Linked DNA regions of Homo sapiens. The protein of the gene in region 2 interacts with the protein of the main gene of each other region in a pairwise test. Each region holds a gene or a part of one and is shown on either strand. Other genes may lie near its edges. The genes, in order: TNFRSF10C, DNAJC1 and CMTM7.

Evidence for each region.
Region 1: the proteins of DNAJC1 (region 2) and TNFRSF10C interact in binary tests that used the Homo sapiens proteins (3 or more experiments, as listed by UniProt).
Region 3: the proteins of DNAJC1 (region 2) and CMTM7 interact in binary tests that used the Homo sapiens proteins (3 or more experiments, as listed by UniProt).

What each region holds. Positions count from the first base shown.
Region 1 is NC_000008.11:23,112,770-23,116,520, reverse strand, and holds part of TNFRSF10C (tumor necrosis factor receptor superfamily member 10C precursor), read right to left. Parts: intron 1,865-3,751; coding exon 1,751-1,864; intron 1,014-1,750; coding exon 905-1,013; intron 1-904. UniProt on the Homo sapiens protein: Receptor for the cytotoxic ligand TRAIL. Lacks a cytoplasmic death domain and hence is not capable of inducing apoptosis. May protect cells against TRAIL mediated apoptosis by competing with TRAIL-R1 and R2 for binding to the ligand.
Region 2 is NC_000010.11:21,996,985-22,000,735, reverse strand, and holds part of DNAJC1 (dnaJ homolog subfamily C member 1 precursor), read left to right. Parts: intron 1-3,751. UniProt on the Homo sapiens protein: May modulate protein synthesis.
Region 3 is NC_000003.12:32,436,809-32,440,559, forward strand, and holds part of CMTM7 (CKLF-like MARVEL transmembrane domain-containing protein 7), read left to right. Parts: intron 1-3,751.

The DNA.
Region 1 (3,751 bases), on a different chromosome or scaffold from region 2:
CTGTCTGGAGGGGGTCCCCCAAGTTCCCTCGTTGAGGCTGGGGAAGGGTCTGAGCATGCGCATTTCAGCCCCTCAGCCTCCCTGCTCTGGGGCCACAGGAGCCTTCTGTGCCGGGCACACACTGAGCTTCCCTGGGCTGCAGAGGAGGCCTGCGTTAGGAGGAGCCACACTCCAGGGGAAGGTCACGAGCCCTTGTGGCCACAAGCTGAGCCCCTTCCTCCAGTCAACCCACAGTACAAGTGATCTCTCACCCCCAACTGTCTGCTGGTTCCTCCCTATCACGGCAAACATTAGGGGGCCAGAGAAGAACAAATTACTCTTGGCCCTTAAAGCCCAAATAGGGAAAAGACAGGACTTATTGAGGGATTGGGGCCAGGGGTGAGGCCGGCTGGATTGGCTCAGGCCTTCATGGGAACTTGAAGGAGCTCCACCCACAGCCTTCTTATGACTTTTGTCGGCCGTGACCACTTTTGTCTTTATGGGTCCTGCCTGCATAAAAAATATTAAAAAGAACATTTTTTAAAACAGCTTGGTATAGCAACAAATACAACCCAGACTGGATTCAAGTGTTTTCTTCTCATTTCAAAAGGAAATCGCATTTCCTAGGTTTGCTGAAAAGGATCAAGGGATCCAGAAAGTTGCTTCTTGTGCCCAGTGAACAAGTTGGTCTGGCCAAGGGGACTCGTGCTGGGGAGGGTCTGGGAAGGGGCTGCTGCAGGGGGTAGGGGTGGGGACAGGCAGATGGACCAGGAGCGGCCACTGCAGACCCAAGAGACCCCACAGGCTCAGGGACACCCCATGGGTCTGGAGGCTCCATAGGGTCAGCGGAGAAATAGGGGTACCAGGTGACTCAGGTCTTCTCGGGTTCCTGAAAGCTGTCAGGAGCCCCTGACTGCTGTCTCACCTGCTACACTTCCGGCACATCTCTGGGGAGTTTTCATTCCGGAAGGTGCCTTCTTTACACTGACACACTGTGTCTCTGGTCATGGTGCAGGAACTTTTATGTTTTTGATCTGACAACAGAGCATAAGGTTTTGGGAATGTGTTTCCCTGATGTATCCCTCGATCTTCCTTACCACCCACCCCCTCCCACTCAGCTCAACCAAGTTCACCAAGGAGTTCTAAGGGCCAGTTTCTGCACCAGCACACTCAGGGCTCATACAGGACACCCACCCTTCAGCTGTCACCAGCACTCAGAGGAGTCATAAAAAGGAGCATAATTCATTATTTATTACATCAGATTAGGGGAAAAGCATTGTTTAGATGGCATGGTCAGTAGCAAGGGAGGTGCAAGGGCATCACCTGAGAGACTCTGCAAGGAGACGGAGGCCTTGGGGGACTTCCCCAAAGCCTGGGCCTGCTGGGGAGGAGGAAGGGGCCTGAGAACCTGAAGGCTGAGTGAGGCCGAGCACCTGCCAGGAGCACAGAGCCTGGGGGAGAGAGCCTGGCCCTGGAGCAGACCCGTGCCACTACTGAAACCTAGCCCTGTCCACTGGGCCAGGCCTTCTCTATGCTCTAATGATCCCCCCACCCTCTTGCAGCTGACAGTTTAGACGATTTCCCAGCCAGGTGGCATGCATTATAGAAAAGATTTCTTTCTATTTTTTTAATCAGTCAAATATATAATCATAGAACAGGGTGATGAAGACCAGGTTGGGCTGGAACTTGGTTCCCTGACTCATATCGGCTACAACTCCCACCTCATTGCCCCACGCTCCACCTCTGGACAAGAGGTCCACACATTCTGTACCTGATTTACAAACTGTACATGGGAAGCAAGAAGGTTCATTGTTGGAAGCGTTGGTGTAATCCACACCCTCTGTGCACGGGTTACAGGCTCCAGTATGTTCTGATCTATGAGATCCTGGGAAGGAAGAGAAAAGCCAATGAATGAGTCACCACAGAATTCCCAGAGGCTGACAGTGGTGGGGAAACTTCTTTTTTGGCCCTCACTGGAATTGAGACAGAGAAATCCACTCTTCCAGGCTTGGTCTTGTCATCCATTCAGCATCTATTACATACCTTTGACTGGCACTGCTGACAGAAATATAATACAAAATTCAAATTCTATGCAAAATTCAAATTCTATGAGAGCCATATTAAAATAGTAAAAAGAATGAGGCCAAATTAATTTTAACAATATAGTTTTAACCTAAAATATCTGAAATACTACATTTCAACATGTAATCAATACACATCATTGAGATATTTTACTTTTTTTACGCCGTCACTCACAAAATAACATCCAACCTACTGTACATGTGATCTGCCCATGCTGGTCCACCTGACCTGTTTGCTGTCCACTCACCACAGTGGCCCCCTGTCTTCGCTCAGTCTCCCCAAGCCCCCGAAACCTGGGGTTCTCATTCCTTCAGGGCCTTCTCAAGAGCACTCTTCCTGGCTCTCTGCAAGACTGGCCCTGTCCAACTTTAAATATCAGCCCAAATCACCATCCCCGAGAGGCCCCACCAACCTTGTCTATCTCCTGTCACTTAACTATTCTTCATGGTTCCCATCAGGACATCCTGACTGTTATGTATATTCATGTGTCTTTTTTTTTTTTTTTGAGACAGAGTCTTGCTCTGTCACCTGGCTGGAGTGCAGTGGCACAATCTCGGCTCACTGCAACCTCCAACTCCCTGGTTCAAGCGATTTTTCTGCCTCAGCCTCCCGAGTAGCTGGGATTATAGGCGACGCACCACCACGCCCAGATTTGTATGGAACTACAAAAGACCTCAAATAGCCAAAGTGATCTTAAGCAAAACAAACAAAAGAACAAAGATGGAGGCATCGTACTACCTGATTTTAAAACGTGTTACAAAAGTATAGTAATCAAAACTGAATGGTAATGGCACAACAATGGTAAATAAACTGATGGAACAAAATAGTGAACCCAGGTATAAATCAATGCATTTACAGTTGATTGATTGTGAGAAAGATACCAAGAACACAAAATGGGGAAAGGACAGCTCTTCAATAAATGGTGTTGAGAAAAGTAGGTATTGACATGCAGAAGAATGAAATAAGACCTTTATCTCACATCATATGTAAAAATTAATTCAAAATGGACTAAAGATTAAAACATAAGATCTGAAATGGTAAAACTACCACAAGAATACATAGGGGAAAATTTTCATGATGTTGGTCTGGGCAATGGTTTCTTGACTATGACCCCAAAAGCACAGGCAACAAAAGGAAAAACAGACAAATGAGGTTACATTACACTAAAAAGGTTCTGCATGACAAAGGAAACAATGAACAGAGTGAAGAGACAACCTACAGAATGAGGGTCAATATTCAAAAGATCCAAGATTTTGGTTAAAATCCAAAATACACAGGAACTCAAACATCTCAATAGCACACAATCAAATAATCCAAGTAAAATGGATACATGGGCGTGGGACCTGAATAGACACTTCTCAAAAGGAGACATAGAAGTGGCCAAAAAGTATATGAAAAAAATGCTCAGCATCACTAACCATCAAGTGCCAAATATCACTTCACACCTGTAAGAATGGCTATTACCAAAAAGACAAAAGGTAACAAGTGTTGATGATGGGGAGAAAAAGGAATGCTGGTACACTGTTGGTGGGAATGGAAATTAGTACAGCCATTATGGAAAACAGTATGGAGGTTCCTCAAAAAACAAAAAATAGAACAACTATATGATCTAGCAATCCCACTATTGGGTATACATCCAAAGGAAATGACGTCAGTATATTGAAGAGATATCTTCCCTCCCATATGCATT
Region 2 (3,751 bases):
TAATCTCATCCATTAGGACTCCACCTTCGTGATATAATCACCTCACAGAGGCCCCACCTTGTATTACTGTCACAATGGGGATTAGATTTCAACATAAGAATTTCGAAGGACAAAAACATTCAGACCATAGCATGGTAGAAGGACATTCAAGGAAGAGCAGACAGTAAGCACAAAGGCCAGGAGGCAAGAGCTTGCTTAGCGTTTGAGGAATAGCAAGGCAGGCAGTGTGGCTGGAGCAGAGTGATCAAGGAAAACAGTAATGGGAGAACAGCAATAGGAGACAAGATCTGAGTCATAGGTGGTAAGGGAAGACCATGTAGGGCTTTGTAGGCCATTGTAAGGACTTCGGCTTTTACTTATAAGTAAGTTGGGGGAGGTGGTGTTTGAACAGAAAAGATACATGATTTGACTTGAATTTCAAAATGATCTCTTTAGTGTACTGAGTATAGTCTGTGAGGCATTAGTTACTTAGAGGGATAATTGTGGTATAGATTGGACCTGGGTGGTAGCAGTGGAGGTGGTGCAAAATGGTCAGATTCTGGATTGAATTTCAACATGGAGCAAACAGAATTTTACTGATGGCTTGAATGTGGTATGCGAGAGAAAAAGAGAAACTGAAGATAATTCTAAAGATTTTTGGCTTCAGTAACTGGAAGGATGCAATTGCCATTTGTTGAGATGGAGAAACCTGGACTAGGAGCCTGGTTTGGAGAACATCAGGAATTTGGTTTACGGACATGCTAAATTTGGGGTGTCTGTTAAACGTTGAAGTTGAGCTGGTATGTAGGCAATTGGTTATTCAGGTGTAGAGTTACAAGAAGAAAGTTTAGGGCTGTAGATAGGAATTTGGGAGTCCGAGGCACTTAGAGAGTAACTTGAAGCCACAAAACTGGATGAGTTCACCAAGGGAGTGAACGTAAAAGAGAAGAGAAGAGATCTGGGAGCTAATAAGCCTTGGGGATTCCAGACTTTAAGAGTCAAGGAGCCGGGTGTGGTGGCTCACGCCTGTAATCCCAGCACTTTGGGAGGCTGAGGCGGGTGGATCACGAGGTCAGGAGTTCAAGACCAGCCTGGCCAACATGGTAAAACCCCGTTTCTACTAAAAAGATAAAAATTAGCCAGGCGTGGTGGCAGGCGCCTGGAATCCCAGCTACTCGGGAGGCTGAGGTAGAGAACTGCTTGAACCCGGGAGGCGGAGGTTGCAGTGAGCCAAGATTGTGCCACTGCACTCCAGCCTGGGCGACAGAGCGAGACTCCGTCTCAAAAAAAAAAAAAAAAAAAAAAGAGTCAAGAAGATGGAGGGGAATCAACAAAGAAGATAGAGCAGGAACGACCAGTAAGGTAGGAGGCAAACCAATACAAGGTTCTCTTCAGTCAAGTGAAAAAAGTGTTTCAAAGACAAAGGGATCAGCTGGGTTAAATGATGATGATGATTCAAATAAGATGAGCTTTGAGACTTCACCGTTGGAATTAACCGTATGGCGGTCACAGGCTACCTCAGTAAGAACTGTTTTGGTGAAGTGGTGAGTTCAGTAGTCTGGGTAGATTGGGTTCAGGAGAGAATGAAAGGGAAGAATTGGAGACAATTAATATAGAACATTCTTTTGAGATATCCATATCCTAAACTAGAAGGCAGAGATGGTAGTGACTGTCTGTGGCATCTTCTTTATCCCCTTATCCACCAGGTATAAGATAACTCAGTTACTCTCTAAGCTCTATAATCTGAATAACAGATGACTTAGAACTTGGACCAGACCACCTTATGACCTTGGACAAGTTAGTTGCCTCATTTTTAGGACAGATGGTAGCTTTTTATTTTCTTCATAGTAAGGCACATAGTAAACACCTAAATATTTATTGAATCAAACATTATAAACATTGTAACTAAATGCAAACTGTAATTCCCCAAACAAGTAGTTGCTTGACAGTTTTTACTCAACAGATTTTACTTCTATGTAATCTTTCACAGCCTTCAGGCAGCAGAAGAATCTTCTTCCATGTATCCTTAGATTTCACGTCCATTCTAGAAGTCTAGAAAGGGGTTGCAGAAGTCTTTGTTGGGGGGTATATACAGATGATTTATTAGTCATTCATACCATGTTTAGAATGACTTTAATAATAGGGCACTCCAATTTGGATATTGCATCTTTTCAGAGGAGATGGGGGGAAGATGAGAGAGGAGTGTAGGAAAAAAGATGTGCTATTGAAAGATCTTTCGTTACCATCTTAAATTATAGGTTCCTGCACAGTATTTATATTTTGTGTAACAGCACCTGCTTCTCAGACACCTGTACTTCTTGTGGGGTCAGTGGCAATTCTGTATTTCTTTTTTTTTTTTTTTTTTTTGAGATGGAGTCTTGCTCTGTCGCCCAGGCTGGAGTGCAGTGGCGCGATCTTGGCTCATTGCAACCTCTGCCTCCTGGGTTCACGCGATTCTCCTGCCTCAGCCTCCCGAGTAGCTGGGATTACAGGCACCTGCCACCATGCCTGGCTAATTTTGTATTTTTAGTAGAGATGGGGTTTCGCCATGTTGGTCAGGCCGATCTTGCACTCCTGACCTCAGGTGATCCACCCACCTCGGCCTCCCAAAGTGTTGGGATTACAGGCGTGAACCACTGCGCCCAGCCTCTATATTTCTTTTAATTGTCTTTTGGGACCATGACTTTCCTTATCCTTTGTATACAGTAATTCTAGCCAACAGTAAACACTTCATATTCATTTAAAAAAATCTGTGAATTGAAATAATGACAAGCTAAATTATCTTAAATTTTGTAGTATTTACTTTATGCTGAAGTCAAGATTTGTCTTCATGGTGCCAGTCAGTCATTACAGACTTCTATTTATGTAGCTAGAAAATGTGCTTCATTCTCTTTCTCTCGTGTTTTATAACTAAATCCTTATATTCAAATGAATGCTGAAACTTGGTTAACAGAAGAAAAGCAGAAGAACAGGGATGTGCTTATAAAATATTTGGATTTTAATTTTTAGATAGGAATTAATAAACCTTTTAAGCTCATTCGGCCTGTATTTTCAAATGTACAGATTAGCTAGCCTGTTTAGAGGAGGGACAATTATTGCCCATTCATCCGTGCCCCATGGTTGGGAGGAACTTCCCTAAAAAAACACCACTGATCACTAGACCCATCTCTAACATCTTACCATGGCGGTGTGAGTTACCTTACTGGAGGGTGATTGCCTTTGCTCTGTTTTGCTTGATTAGGAAGAGCTGATCAGTCAGAAAGCTATGAGTAGTGGGAATCAGTCTCTTTGCACCTCTCTGCCCAGACCAGTAAGGCAATTATCCTAACCAGACTTACCCTTGAGCATACTGTCTCAAAGTCTAGAATGTAGAGGAGAGGGCACAAATTGCTAGCAAGCCCATTTGGCCATCACATTTAACCTGTATTCTTCAATAGCTGTATCAGTTATAAAGGTTCATCTCTTGTCTGCCCGACTCCTGTGTCCACTCAGTTTTTTGGATGGGAAAAACCAGTTAATGGGGCCTCCCTAAAGCCCATCACAGTCCTTTTTAGAAATGAAGATGATGATTTCATTCATGAATGATGGTGAATTTGTACTGTGATTATCAATTTTGTCCAGTGATTCTTGCAGTGGAATCCACTGAGCTTGTGGTGTTGAGTGTAGTTCAGTCTTTCTCTGTGGAGTCTATTCCTTTGTACATGTGTGTTGTGTAATAATAGCTTCCCCATTTTTATTGTAGAATCCAATTTTTTTTAATTTGGAGAAAGAG
Region 3 (3,751 bases), on a different chromosome or scaffold from region 2:
CATGGGTGGCAGGAGACAGGGTCCTGAGACCACCAGACACCTCCCCAGCCCAATCAGAAGCCGACGTCTCTTGAAAACTGCCTCTTGAGTTTTCTGTAGAGATTTTTCATCGTAGACCTCAAAATCTCATTTCTTTCTGGAAGGATGCTCAGCCAGGCTGAGAACCTGGGCAAACTTTCTGGCACCTGGCTGGTTGCGGGTGTACACTCAAGCTGCAACCAGACTAGTTTGGTTCCAGAGTCCTCAGGGGACCATCACTTTTCTCAGATCATGTCAGCTTCCTTCATCTCTTGTGAAATTTAAACCCTCTGCTCCTTCCAAAAAATCATGTCTTCTTTCTAGTAAGAATTCTGACAGAATGGAGTCAGAAAGGACACAGGTTCCAGGGAGTGATGTTTCTTATCTGGAATTCTAATTCCAGTGATTCTGTGGTATCATGGCTGGTCTGTGGGACCCTTGCTTTGAGTTGAGGGCTCTTGCAGTGTTACTTTTAAACCCCTGGACATGGCTGGGCACCGTGGCTCACACCTGTAATCCCAGCACTTTGGGAGGCTGAGACGGGTGGATCACTTGAGGTCAGGAGTTCGAGACCAGCCTGACCAATATGGTGAAACCCTGTCTCTACTAAAAATATAAAAATTAGCCGGCCGTGGTGGTGCACACCTGTAGTCCCAGCTACTCAGGAAGCTGAGGCAGGAGAATCGCTTGAACCCAGAAGGCAGAGGTTGCAGTGAGTGGGGATAGCGCCACTGCACTCCAGCCTGGGTGACAGAGTGAGACTCTGTCTCAAAAGAAAAAAATAGGCCGGGCGCGGTGGCTCACGCCTGTACTCTCGACACTTTGGGAGGCCAAGGCATGCAGATCGCAAGGTCAGGAGATCGAGACTCTCCTGGCCAACATGGTGAAACCCTGTCTCTACTAAAAATACAAAAATTAGCTGGGCATGGTGGCGCATACATGTAATCCCAGCTACTTGTGAGGCTGAGGTAGGAGAATCCCTTGAACCAGGGAGGTGGAGGTTGCAGTGAGCTGAGATGTTGCCACTGCACTCCTGCCTAGCGACAGAGTGAGACTCCATCTCAAAAAAATAAAATAAATAAAATAAACCCCTGGACATTTATGTTAGATATTTTATTTTTATGACAGTTCAATATAAAAGAACAAACCGTTACGAGAGGAGCTAGAAGGCACCTTAAGAGGCAAGTGAACCCTTTGGACAGCATCACTTTGAAGTTACTCTACACAGAAACATCTGTCTTCCAGGAGCCTCCCAGCTGCTTCACTCCGTCCTGAAGTCAGAACCCCTACCTCCAGTCCTCTCTGAATTCAGGCGTGTTTGTGCATTTGCTTTTCTAACTGGGAACACGAAGACACCTGAGAGGGTTGGAGCTGGCGGGAGGAGGGCAGGGATAAACACCCCAGCGCCTTTTCCCCACTATTGTCTTGTTCTTTCTTCCACTTCACCTTTGCTTTCTTTTTTAACTTGTATATTAAGTTCAGGGGTACTTGTGTAGGTTTCTTATATGGTAAACTTGTGTCATGGGAGGGGGTTGTTGTACAGATTATTTTGTCACCCAGGAATTAAGCTTCTAAATAATTCAGGGGGCCCCAGCATTTGCAGAAGTTACCTACTGGCTTTAGAAGAATTTCTGAAAAGTTTGATGTCAGTCAAATCTTTTTTTTTTTTTTAACTTAATATGCTGGCTAAGATGCTGGCTATTTAAAGTTGGAATGAATGAATCCCTGGGCAAAAAGGAAGCTTTTAGGAGCACGCATAAGCACACACCATACTCTGGCTAAATTAGATTTTCTAAAATTGGGCTTTCCTAAAGAAAGTCATATGGTAGATGGCCATAGGCCCAGTGAACCGAATTCAGAAAGTGTTATTTCATGAGCAAGTTTCCCAGAAAGGTTCGAGATGTTTCTGATAGAGCAGGAATGTACTTCCTACTACACAGTACTCAGCCCTGGAGGCTCAGAGCAGGAAGACCTGACCTGCACAGGCCCCTTTTGTTGGCTGGGAAACTTCCACATCCCTGTGTCACCATGAAAAAGAGCTAACTTTGTCTTCAACGACGAGTTGGAAAATTATTTTAATCTCTGCATTAAACTAGATGCAAAATTGCCTCTCTACCTAGGAATCACGCTGCATAATCCCACATTATCTGCATTTTCAGTCATGCCTTGAATAATGATACTTGAGTTCTTGAGGAGGTCATTGTGGGGCTGGGAAGACCCCTAGACTTCCCCATGTAGATGTGGCCTGGAAGTAAGACTAACGTAGCAGCAAAGCCCTGGCGATCATGCACACTCCTGAGTAAGGCAGAGGTGTGAATCATTATATCACCATGGCTGGCTAGCTTCAGAGGAACCGAAAAAATGAAAACACTTGCGTTGCTCATTAGCAAAGGGAAATACACAAATGTTGAGGGACTCTTTGTGTCACAGCCACACTCTTCTGTTTCGATCTGGTAAGCAGAGCACTCTCCATACCTGCTTCAAGCTTCCAGCTGAGAGTTCTCTTTTAGCTGTTGTACCTATTGCTGAGGATCTTGATAGTGGGCTAGCAACAAGGGGCTTTAGAAAATAAGAGCATTTCAGCATCAACTGTTTTAACTGGAGTAAGATCCATTTTGTGATTTGATTTGATTTTTATTTTTTTAGAGACAGACTTTCACTCTGTCTTGCAGGCTGGAGTGCAGTGACGTGATAATAGCTCACTGCAACCTCAACCTCCTAGGCTCAATTGATCCTCCCACCTCAGCCTCCCAAGTTGCTGAGACCACAGGTGCATGCCACCACGCCCAGCTAGTTTTTGTATTTTTTGTAGAGACAGGGTCTTGCTTGTTGCCCAGGCTGGTCTCAAACTCCTGGCTTCAGGTGATCCACCCGCCTTGGCCTCCCAAAGTGCTGGGATTGCAGGCGTGAGCCTGGGATGCCAGGCATGCACCAGGCCCCATTTTGTGATTTAATTCTCATTGTAGACTGACATTTTCTATAGCAGAATTTTTCAACAGTAGTACTGTAGTTGAGGGGCCACATTTGGGGCTGGAGATGGGTAACTCTTTACTATGGGAGCTCTCCTATTTATTGCAGGGTGCTTAGCAGCACCCTGGGCCTCTACCCACTAAATGCCAGTAGCAACCCCCATCCCCGCAAATTGTGTAAACCAAAAATATATACACACATTGCCAAATGTCCCATAGGACACAAAATCATATACCCATACGCTAACACACCCATACACTAACACCACACGCATACACACACACACACACACACACACACACACACACACTTTAAGACTCGCTGCTCTGGCCAGGCGTGGTGGCTCACACCTGTAATCACAGCACTTTGGGGAGCTGGGGCAGGCAGATTACTTGAGTTCAGGAGTTTAAGACCAGTCTGGCCAACATGGTGGAACCCCCTCTCTACTAAAAATGCAAAAATTAGCTGGGCATGGTGGTGCATACCTGTAGTCCCAGCTACTCTGGAGGCTGAGGCAAGAGAATCGCTTGAATCTCGTAGGCAGAGTTGCAGTGAGCCAAGATCATGCTACTGCACTCCAGCCTGGGCAACAGAGTGAGACTCCATCTCAAAAAAAAAAGAATCACTCCTCCATAGGAGAGAGGCAGTGTATAAAATAATCTTTTTTCTAAATTGGTTGTGCATTTTAAATAGATTCCTGGCTGGAAACAATGGCTTACGTCCATAATCCCAGCACTTTGGGAGGCCAAGGCAGGGGGATTGC